2 separate regions of the Homo sapiens genome follow, and region 1 is linked to region 2. The links come from fine-mapping of genetic effects on gene expression. A gene starts in region 2. The other region holds a variant in brackets. All regions are shown on one strand. Distances are from middle to middle.

Region 1 (5,522 bases), 35 kb after region 2:
AAACATGAGAACATTATCTGGTGGTGTCGGTGGTGGAGGAGTTAAACTATCCAATAATAGGGGGTGAAGGTATAGGTACAGCTATGTGAATACTAACACTACTGCTTCCTCTGTTTTCTTGACTTCCCTTCCTCCACTACTTTCATTGTCTGCCTTGGTTTCTGATTTAATGAAGCTGACCTGCCTGGACTATGATGACTTCCAAACCTAGCAGGATGCATCATATAGTCATTAGGAACAGTTGGGGTTTAATGGGTTCCAGGGTTTTATAAGGAGTATTCTGTCCCAGTAATCCCTGGCCTCATACGAGAGGACTTGGTGGTTTTGGAAAGAAGGATTTGCTCTTGTTCTTGGCAGTGTGCCAATTCTTTTTTTTTTTTTTTTTTTTTTTGAGACAGTGTTTTGTTCTGTCACCCAGGCTGGAGTGCAGTAGCACGATCTCAGCTCACTGTAACCTTCGCCTCCCGGGTTCAAGCAGTTCTCCTGCCTCAGCCTCCCGAGTAGCTGGGATTACAGGCACCCGCCACCACACCTGGCTAATTTTTTGTGTTTTTAGTAGAGACAGGGTTTCACCACATTGGCTAGGCTGGTCGTGAACTCCTGACCTCAGGTGATCCACCCACCTTGGCCTCCCAAAGTGCTGGGATTACAGGTGTGAGCCACTGCGCCTGGCTGGCAGTGTGCCAATTCTTGCAGGCTGGTTATTTACATGCTTGGCACCATGGTTCACATCATTCAGAACTGTGTAGGCAATAGGTATCCAAACATACCTTATAAGACGCTCCATATTTGCAGGCGCTATTATTTTGTGAATTCTTGATGTAGTCTTATTTGTTGTCCAAATACCAATATCTCTTCGAGCTACTTTCTCTTTATTAATATCCATGATCTGTGAGATATGATTGATGAAAGACTCCATTCTTCAAAGTTGAAAGGCTTGGATGTTCACCAACTGGAGTACATTGTTAGACACTGTAGTTTTTTGATAAGTGACACTAACTGGAGGTCCGGTTATGTAGGCTTTGGTCTCTTCTAAAGCTTTTCTCTTGTCTTCACAGTAGTTCGCCACCTGGTTCAGGTTCTGGTAACTCTCTATCAGTGCCCTCTTGTGAGACAGGATCTCCTCTAGTAACATCTGCAGCTCTGCCATTTTCCACCCTTCTGTATCGGTTCCTCTTGCATTAAAGAAACAGAGGCAGAAAGTTCTACTGAGGCTCCCAGCACCTCATAGCCTGGATCCAAACCACCTTGCCACCTGGTATTGTCAATTTGTTAATATTTTGTTGAGGATTTTTGTATCTATGTTCATGAGAGATATATCTGTAGTTTTCTTGTAATGCCTTTGTCTGATTTTGGTAGTAAGATAATTATGGCCTCACAGAATGAGTAAAGAAGTACTACTTCTGCTTCTATTTCTAGAAGAGACTGTAAATAATTAATGTAATTTCTTCCTTAAATGTTTGGCAAAGTTACCAGTGAACCCATCTGGGCTTTCTGTTTTGGAAGGTTATTAACTATTGATTCAATTTATGTAGTAGACACAAGTCTATTCAGATCATCTATTTCTTCTTGCATGAGTTTTGGCAGATAGTGTCTTTCAAGAAATTGGTCCATTTTTATCTAGGTTATCAAATTTCTGGATATAGAACTGTTCATAATATTCCTTTATCATCCATGTATTAATAATATCTATGGGATCTGCAGTCATGTACTCTTTTTCATTTCTGATATTAGTCATTTTTGTTCTCTCTCTATTTTTCTTAGCTTGGCTAGAGGCTTATTACTTTTGTTGACCTTTACAAAAAACTAGCTTTTTTGTAAAAACTGATTTTATTGACTTTCTCTATTGACTTCCTGTTTTCAGTTTCATTGATTGCTGCTCAAATGTTTATTATTTCTTTTCTTCTGTTTACTTCGAATTTAATTTGCTCTTCCTTTTCTAGTTTACTTAGGTGGAAGCTTAGATGATTGATTGTAGATTTTTCTTCTTTTCTAATATATTTATTTAATGCTATAAGTTTCCTTCTAAGCACTGCTTTCACTGCATCCCACAAATTTTGATAAGTTGTATTTTCCTTTCATTTAGTTCAAAATATTTTTTAATTTTTCTTGAGATTTCTTTTTTGACTTATGTGTTATTTCGAAGTGTTTAATCTCCAAGTATTTGGGGATTTTCCAGATATCTTTCTGTTATTGATTTCTAAGTTTAATTTCATTGTGGTCTGAGAGGAGATATTGTATGATTTTTATTCTTTTTAATTTGTTAAAAATTAAATGGGTCTGCCTTGGTGAATGTTCCATGGAATCTTGAGAAGAATCTATCTTCTCCTGTTATTGGATGAAGTAATCTACAGATACCAACTATATCC[T/A]GTTGATGGATGGTGCTGTTAAGTTCAACTATGTACTTACTGATTTTCTGTCTGCTGTATTTGTCCATTTCTGATACAGGGGTGTTAAAATCTCCAACTATAATAGTGGGTTCATCTATTTCTCCTTGCAATTCTATCAGTTTTCACTTTATGTATTTTGATGTCCTATAGTTAGGTGCATACATATTAAGGATTATTATGTCTTCTTGGAATACTGACCCTTTTATCATTATGTAAGTTGGTTTCTTTTCTTTTCTTTTCTTTCTTTCTTTTTTTTGAGACAAAGTCTTGCTCTGTGGGCCAGGCTGGAGAGCAGTGGCATGATCTCTCACTGCAACCTCTGCCTCCCAGGTTCAAGTGATTCTCCTGCCTCAGCCTCCCGAGTAGCTGGGATTACAGGCATGCGCCACCATGCCCAGCTAAGTTTTTTATTTTTAGTAGAGACAGGGTTTCACCATGTTGGCCAGGCTGGTCTCGAACTCCTGACATCAGGTGATCCACCGGCCTCAGCCTCCCAAAGTGCTGGGATTATAGGCATGAGCCACCACGCCCAGCCGGTTGGTGGATTTTTTTTCCTCCTCTTAGTACTTTTAAATATTTTACTCCATTCTCTTCTTGTTTGCATGGTTACTGTGGAGAGGTCATATGTAATCCTTATCTTTCTTCCTCAAAAGGGAGATTATTGTTTCTCTGGCTCTTTTCAAATTTTTCTTTGTCTTCATCTGAAATTTGAATATAATATGTTTAGTTGTAATTTTTTTTTTTTTTTTTTTTTTGGCATTTATCCTGCTTGATGTTCTCTGAGCTTCCTGGATCTGTGCTTTGGTGTCTGACATTAATTTGGGGAAATTCTCAGTCTTTATTGCTTCAAATATTGCTTCTGTTCCTTTCTTATCCTTCTGGTATTCCCATTTATGTATATGCTATACTTTCTGTAGTTGTCCCACAGTTTTGAATATTGTGTTCTGATTTTTCAGTCTTTTTTCTCTCTGCTTTTCAGTTTTACAAGTTCCTATTGCCATATCCTCTAGCTCAGAGATTCTTTCCTTAGCCATATCCAGTCTCTAATGAGCCCATCAAAGGCATTCTTCATTTCTGTAACAGTCTTTTCATATCTCTAGCATTTTTTTAGAATACTCATCTCTCTGTTTATGTTATTTGTCTATTCCATGTTGTCTACTTTTATCATTAAAACCCTTAGCTTATCGATTATAGTTTTTTTGGGAGAATTTGTATTATTTTAATTATTTTTATATACAGAAAACTCAACAGTGTACCTTTAACTCACTTTGGTGGCAAGTTCTTTAGCCTTTGCCTTTTCCATATGGGCAATGTGAGCCACAGACTTGGGACCCAGGGCCTTGCCTCCCCAGTGACGGCAGATCTCATCAGATCTGTCATTGTAATTGGTCCTGATAGCTTCCACCAGCTTAGCCAAAGCCCCTTTGTTTTCCGAGTTAACCTGTGTGAAAGCAGCATTGGTGCAGGTCTTCCTGTGGACTAGACATCCCAGCCTTGCCTTCCTTTTGATAACGCAGTAAGGGACCTCCATTTTATGGCACAGGGCAGGCAGGAAGACAACCAGCTTGATGGGCTCGACATCCTGTGCAGTCACCACGGGCTGAGCCTTCTTGTTCTCCACCAAGGTGGTGACGGTGTTAACTCCTGCTCGAAGGACCGGTGGTCTCTTAGTGGGGATGCCCCCTTTGCCCAGAGCTTTCTTCTCAGCCAGGGCCAACAGCCTCTGCTGCTTCTCTTGCTTTGTCTCTGGGCCAGCTTAAACAGCTGAGTAGCTGTTTGGCCTTCCAGGTCCTGGGTAAACTGGTTAATCGCAAGAGGCACTTTCAGCCGCTTATAGAGAATGGCTCTCTGCCCTCATATAGTGGGGCCATTTCACAAAACGAGTGAGCTCGCTTTCAGGCCGGATGTCCTGTCCGATGCCAGAATTCTTAGGCTTTTTCTCAAACAGGGATTCACCACTTTCTTGGCCTGCTGCTTCTTTACGACAGCAGAGGCCAGAGCCACCTTTTTGCCCTTGGCCTTCTTTTCAGCATCTTGGGTGGCAGGAGGAGAGAGCAATTATAGTTTTTTAAATTCCTAGTCAGATAATTCCAACATTCCTGTCATATCTGAGTCTGGTTCTGATGCTCATTCAGTCTCTTCAAACAGCATTTTTTGCCTTTTAGTATGCCTTTTAAGCTTTTGTTAAAGGTGAACATGGTGTACTGAGTTTTAAAAAAAAAAAGTAAAGTAAATAGGATTTTAGTAATGCAGTGGTAAGGTGTCTGGGCGGAGGGGGAGGAAGTGTTCTATAGTCCTACGATTAGGTCTCAGTTTTTATTGTTGTTGTCTTTCTTTTTTTTTTTTGAGACAGAGTCTTGCTCTGTCGCCCAGGCTGGAGTACAGTGGCGCAATCTCAGCTCACTGCAACCTCTGCCTCCCTGGTTCAAGCAATTCTCCTGCCTCAGCCTCCCAAGTGGCTGGGATTGTAGGCATGCACCACCATGCCTGTCTAATTTTTGTATTTTTAGTAGAGACGGGGTTTCACCACGTTGGCCAGGCTGGTCTCAAACTCCTGACCTCTGGTGATCCGCCCGCCTCAGCCTCCCAAAGTGCTAGGATTACAGTTGTGAGCCACTGCACCCAGCCTGGTCTCAGTCTTTTGTTGAGCCTGTGCCCCTGCACTGTGAACTTCACAAGTGCTTTTCAGGTGTTTTTCCTCTTAGGTGAGACAAGATAGCTAGAGGAGGCTGGAGTTGGGTCTTTCACTTCCCCCAGGTAGGTTAGGCCGTGATAAAGCCCCAGCAAGTAGGGCTCTGGTAAAATAGTTTCTCCTGAGGCAGGCCTTGTTAGGAAAAATAAAACGCTCTGGTGTATTTCAAAATGGTTTCTTTTTCCCCTCCCCCTGCCAGAAGCACAATATTTATGATCTAATATCGTATGTATAGTTGCAATGTTTTTGGCATTTATCTTGCTTGATTTTGAGCTTCCTGGATCTGTGGTTTGGTGTCTGACATTAATTTGGGGGAAATTCTCAGTCATTATTGCTTCAAATATTGTTCCTATTCCTTTATTATCCAATAACATTATCCGATATTTATTGTGAGGAGCTGGTAGAGTTCCCAGAAGTAAAACTCACAAAAGTGTGCCCCC
Region 2 (5,000 bases):
TTACATTTTTTGATTGGGACAAAGTCATGTTCACAGGAACTGAAAGAGGAAGCAATGAAATGCAATTCTCTTTGAGCATGAGTGATCACCAATGTCACTTCTAGAGAAATAGTTACTTGCTTGTATCCTCTAAGTATACTCTGGATTTACCTTCAAAGTCACTAAAAACAGTACAGAGAACAAGCAGGTCATAAGGTGTATTCTCAAATATATGAACGATCTTGCAAAGCACGATTTTTCTCATTTCCTTATTACATATTAGGTCAGATTCCCAAGAGAACCAAAACCTTCCTAGAACCACTTAAGTTCATTAACAATTTAATATTTTAACAAAGTATTGGAGATCTTTCAGGTTAAAACTTCATTTGCTATAAAAATTATAGGCATACAATTAAAAACACATGTTCCATTCAAGTTAAGAAATTAACTTACACATAGGAAATGTATAAGACACATTCAACTTTTAAAAAAACAATTATGATTCAGTATTCTACGTGTCATCTTAACCATGACAGGCTGATTAAGAACTTTTAACCATAACTTAACATTCAAGTTAAGAACTTAAGAACAGTGACAATCTTAATATGGGTTCTTTAGAAGTCTCAAAAAGGTTTTCACGTCTTAGGCTCTTTTAAAAAGCCATATTGACTGATATTAAAAATATAATTATTAAAACGATCTCCCTACCAAAAGCAGATTAAAGCCTATAAACTAGAAGGGAGACTGAAGTGAGGCATTTTTAGGGACAAACACAACATCAAACAGAAGAGACTACTGGTATTAAAAGAATACAGAAAGATCTAAATTGGAAACAAAATCGTAAATGTCTCTTCATAATGCTGACGCTGAATCATTAAGAGTTAAATACTTGATATTCTTTATAATTTTCAAGTATTAAGAAAATTTTTCAATAGATCTTGTTATATTTTCAAATTCATTATCAGCCTCAAGTAAATCAAGTAGAACACCTTATTCTCTAAGCTCACTTGATAAGGTATTGTTATGTCTGATGAAGGCTACAAAATTAGAAGAGACATTTGAAACTCAATGTTGGGGTGGGAGGGAAACTCATGAACAGACCCAGCTATTTCAGGTTAGATCCTTAAACTAAAAAAAAAGGAAAAAGGAAAAAAAAAAAGAGCCTTTTTTATCAGGCAGCACATCAAATATGAAAGTCTACTGCAAGGCATGTCTACCCAAAATACTCAAGAGTAATTTAGTGTTATTCTTGGGATCATTATCCCAAGTCTCACCAGCTTGGGATCATTATCCCAAGTCTCACCAGCAATTGCTTCGGACCAAACTGGAGACACTGTTGCCATTAGCCTGCTAGGTAAGCTAAGGAAAACAAATGCAACCTAATTTAGCAAAAATTCTAACTTTAAGTCAACTCCTATACAATTCAGAACCTTTAGTTCACCGAAGATGCTTATCTTTAGCTGGGCTGGCCATGAGTGTCTACATTTCTCAAGGCTTTCCACAAAGTCATCACACACACACACACCTTAACAGTTAACTTCAACCGTAGCTCTTTACTCAAGGCTTTCCACAAAGTCATCACACACACACACTCACACACACACACACACCTTAACAGTTAACTTCAACCGTAGCTCTTTAAGCACTACTAACTTAAATAGCGGCTAAGGAATCCGTTTGCCAACACAGTTCTGAATTTAGATTCCTCCTTCCTCCCACAGGAAAGAAGGGCCAACACTGAACAGCTTACTTTCAACCTAACCTAGTCAAGGTGCAACTGGGGCCGGCTGGGACGCCGCTGCCCGCGTCCGGGGCTGCCCACATCTAGTGCACCCAGCGCCTTCACCGCCAGCATGCGGGGCTGCACATCCCACACCAGACGTATGGCTGAGAGCCAGACGACTTCTCTAGACTTCCCGCGTAGTTTTCCGGCGAGGTCCCCAAGGCCAAAAATCTCACTTTTGGAAACTGAAGGGGTCAGGCCGAATCGCTAGGACACACCCCTCGGGGACAGGAAGGGATAACTTCGCCGGTGTCGAGAGTGGTCCATGGATTTTTCCAAAGTCCCCCCTCATGCTGCTTTCCGTGCCCAACCGCCTCCCGCCCTGACCTGGGGACTCGCAAAGGGCAGCGGGAGGGGCGCCGGGGAAGGGGGCGAGCGCCCAGACCGCCGGAGGCAGCGGCGAGGACTGGAACTCCAGCATGGCGTAAGTGTGGCCCAGCTCCGGCCCGGGGACGCCGCCGGAGACGCGCTGCCTCCGTCCACCGGCCGAGGAGGCGGTAATCCGCCTTCCCTCCCGGGGGCCCTCAGGCTTGGCTAAAAATAGGTGCCTCGGTCACCCCAGGGCCCGCTCGGGTCGACCTCGCCTTCGGGAGAGTCGTCCTTGGGGAGGGTGGGGGGTGTCCCTCGGCCGCGCCCCGGGTGCCGCGACAGAGCCGGGGTCGGGCCCAGAGCGGCCCCGCGAGGCCGAGGAGGTCCCTCCGAGCCCGCCCCCTGCGGCGTCCCGGCCCCAACAAGAGCCCCGCGGCGGCAACCGGATGCCCGAGGCCTACCCAGCGGGCGGCGTCCGGGCCCCGCGGCCGCGCCCCCCCGCCCGGCGCGGCCCTCCCGCCTGCCCCAGGACCCCGCGGCCGGCGCCGCCTCCCCCCGCGCTCCCCGCCGCCGGCGCCCGTCCCGGTGCGGCCTGCTCTCCCTCACCCTGTGCGGCCGGGAAAGGAGACCGGGAAGACGCGGCGGCGCCGGCACTACAGCCCGGGCCGCCCGCTCCGAGGCGCCGCCGCCGCCGCCGCCGCCGCCGCAGTCGCTCAGGTGCCGTCGCGCCGCTCGGCAGGAAACGGGCGGCTTCGGGGCGGGGCGGGGCGGACCCGGCACGTCCTGGCGTCTGGGCCGGCGGCGCCGGGAGACCGGCCCCTTAAAGGGACAGCCGCCGGCCCGCCTCTGCCTCCGCGCGCCTGCCCACGCGCTCCGGTACTCGCTGCTCGCGGCTGGCCGGCTCGGGATTCCGGGCTTTCTTCCCGAGACCGCGTCCCCCAGCTGGGCCGAAGGTGGACGCTCAGGGGCTGGAGGCTCAGCGGAATCCCCTGCGTTCAGTAGCCCCGCTCTCCCCTGTCCCGAAGGTTGGTCTCGTCTCGCGCGGCCCTCCCTCCAGGGCACCACCTGGCTCCCCACGCCTTTTAACTTCAGCAAACGGCACTAGATTTACCCCCTGACTATCCCAGATTTCCCCCAGAAATTACTGGAAAACGACATCCCCCGTCCCTTTCTCCAGGGGATCTCTCTGAAATCTCCTTCGGGCAACGCTAGCTACAAACGGAGAAAGAAATTAGAAAGCGACCCAAATAATGGTCGGGCGCGGTGGTTCACGCCTGTAACCCCAGTACTTTGGGAGGCCAAGGCAGGCGGATCACCTGAGGTCAGGAGTTCGAGACCAGCCTGGCCAACATATAGTAAAACCCGTCTCTGCCAAAAAAAGTACAAAAAATTAGCTGGGCATAGTGGCGCACGCCTGTAGCCCCAGCTACTTGGGAAGCTGAGACAGGAGAATCGCAGGAATCTAGGAGGCGGAGGTTGCAGTGAGCCGAGATCTCGCCACTGCACTCCAGCCTGGGCGAGAGAGTAAGACTCTCCGTTTCTCTCAAAAAAAAAAAAAAAAAAAGGAAAGAAAAGAAAGCGACCCAAATGAGTTGTGTGCAAACATTATGAAAGTGTTGTGACTGCCAGCTGGTAGCCATTTATGAAGCCGGGGTAAAAATCTAGAAACTGCTGCGCGAGGAGGGATGGGCCCGGATCTCTCCTTATTCGTTTGCTCTTTGCTGAAAGGATGGCAGCGATCCTCCCCGTCCACTGGCAAGTGAGTTTCGTGTGGATTGTTTACCGATGATCAATCTCTCACAGGAGGCCAGGCACTGCCCCACTACATGTACAAAACACTCCAAGCTGTCCGCAAATGTTATGAAGGCTTAAAATAATCCTAACGATTCCAGACTGTGGATAGAGATAGAAAAAATTAGGACTCACCACCACCACCTCGCCCTACATCTGACAAAGTGGGAACAGAAGCAGTTAAGGAATGAACAGCAGAACCGTTTCTACACCAACAGAATTTCCTGTACATGGGCTGGTTAAAAGTATCCATACTTTTTATTCTAATCATTTCTAAGTTTTCTAGAGCACCTCCAAAATACAAATGAAAACTGCGCAGTGTATAGTGGCCTGAGATATTGAGAATTCTGCCAGTCTTCAGTCACCGTGTTCTCCACAGATGCATTGTCTTATTTTAACTCCAGAGGCGTCCTCTTTTTTCTTTCTCATTAGGATTACTCTGCCCCTCAGCGGTTCCAGTGCCCTCAAAGCAATCTGTCTCTGAAGTACTGGCTATCTTCTGAGCGTGTGCCAGAAGATCCAGCTTTGTTGAAAAGCGAAGCCGTTAGTCCCTTAATACAAAGGGTAAGTGTATCATTTATGTAATGGAGTTTAAGGGCTCTTGATTAGCTTACAAACAACCATGTTATTTCCTCAGGTTAGTACTAACGCAGGTTTTAGGTTAGAATTAAAAATTTATATCATTCATTTTCCTGACCAGTAAAACCGCAATGTCATTTACAGGCAATAATATTTCGGTGCACTTGTAAGTAAGACAATGAGTGGAGTTTAGGATTTTCTCAAAACATACTACTGCTTATACTAAAGGATGACTTTGTATCACCTATTTCGGCTTTTCTGGCGTTTGAACTTTGACTATAGAAAGGGAAGTGGTTGAATGCTTTATTTTTTATAAGCTTTCTATTTATTCACATCAAAACAAAAAGATTTACTAGAGGCCGGGCGCAGTGGCTGACACCTGTAATCCCAGCACTTTGGGAGGCCGAGCTGGGTGGATCACCTGAGGTCGGGAGTTCGAGACCACCATGGCCAACATGGTGAAACCCCAGCTCTACTAAAAATACAAAACTTAGCTGGGCATGGTGGCAGGTGCCTATAATCCCAGCTACTGGGGAGGCTGAGCAGGAGGATCGCTTGA

The links. PIP is the estimated chance that this variant, and not a neighbour inherited with it, causes the effect.
Region 1: its variant is the best candidate, but not a certain one, in a credible set for the expression of KTN1-AS1 in whole blood (TOPMed, PIP 0.65).

What each region holds. Positions count from the first base shown.
Region 1 is chr14:55,542,302-55,547,823 of GRCh38, reverse strand. It overlaps the pseudogene RPL7AP4 and the pseudogene ABI1P1. Among named protein-coding and RNA genes, the nearest start is that of KTN1-AS1, 35 kb to the left of the region's middle. The variant T/A (reference allele first, on the strand shown) is at 2,370.
Region 2 is chr14:55,578,032-55,583,031 of GRCh38, reverse strand. KTN1-AS1 (KTN1 antisense RNA 1) reads left to right here and starts at 2,940. Exons shown (of 3, transcript NR_027123.1): 1 at 2,940-3,096; 2 at 4,295-4,426. KTN1 (kinectin 1) reads right to left here and starts at 2,825. Exons shown (of 44, transcript NM_001079521.2): 1 at 2,678-2,825. RefSeq lists silencers at 1,507-1,801, 1,981-2,620, 2,681-2,940 and enhancers at 3,381-3,470, 3,481-3,600.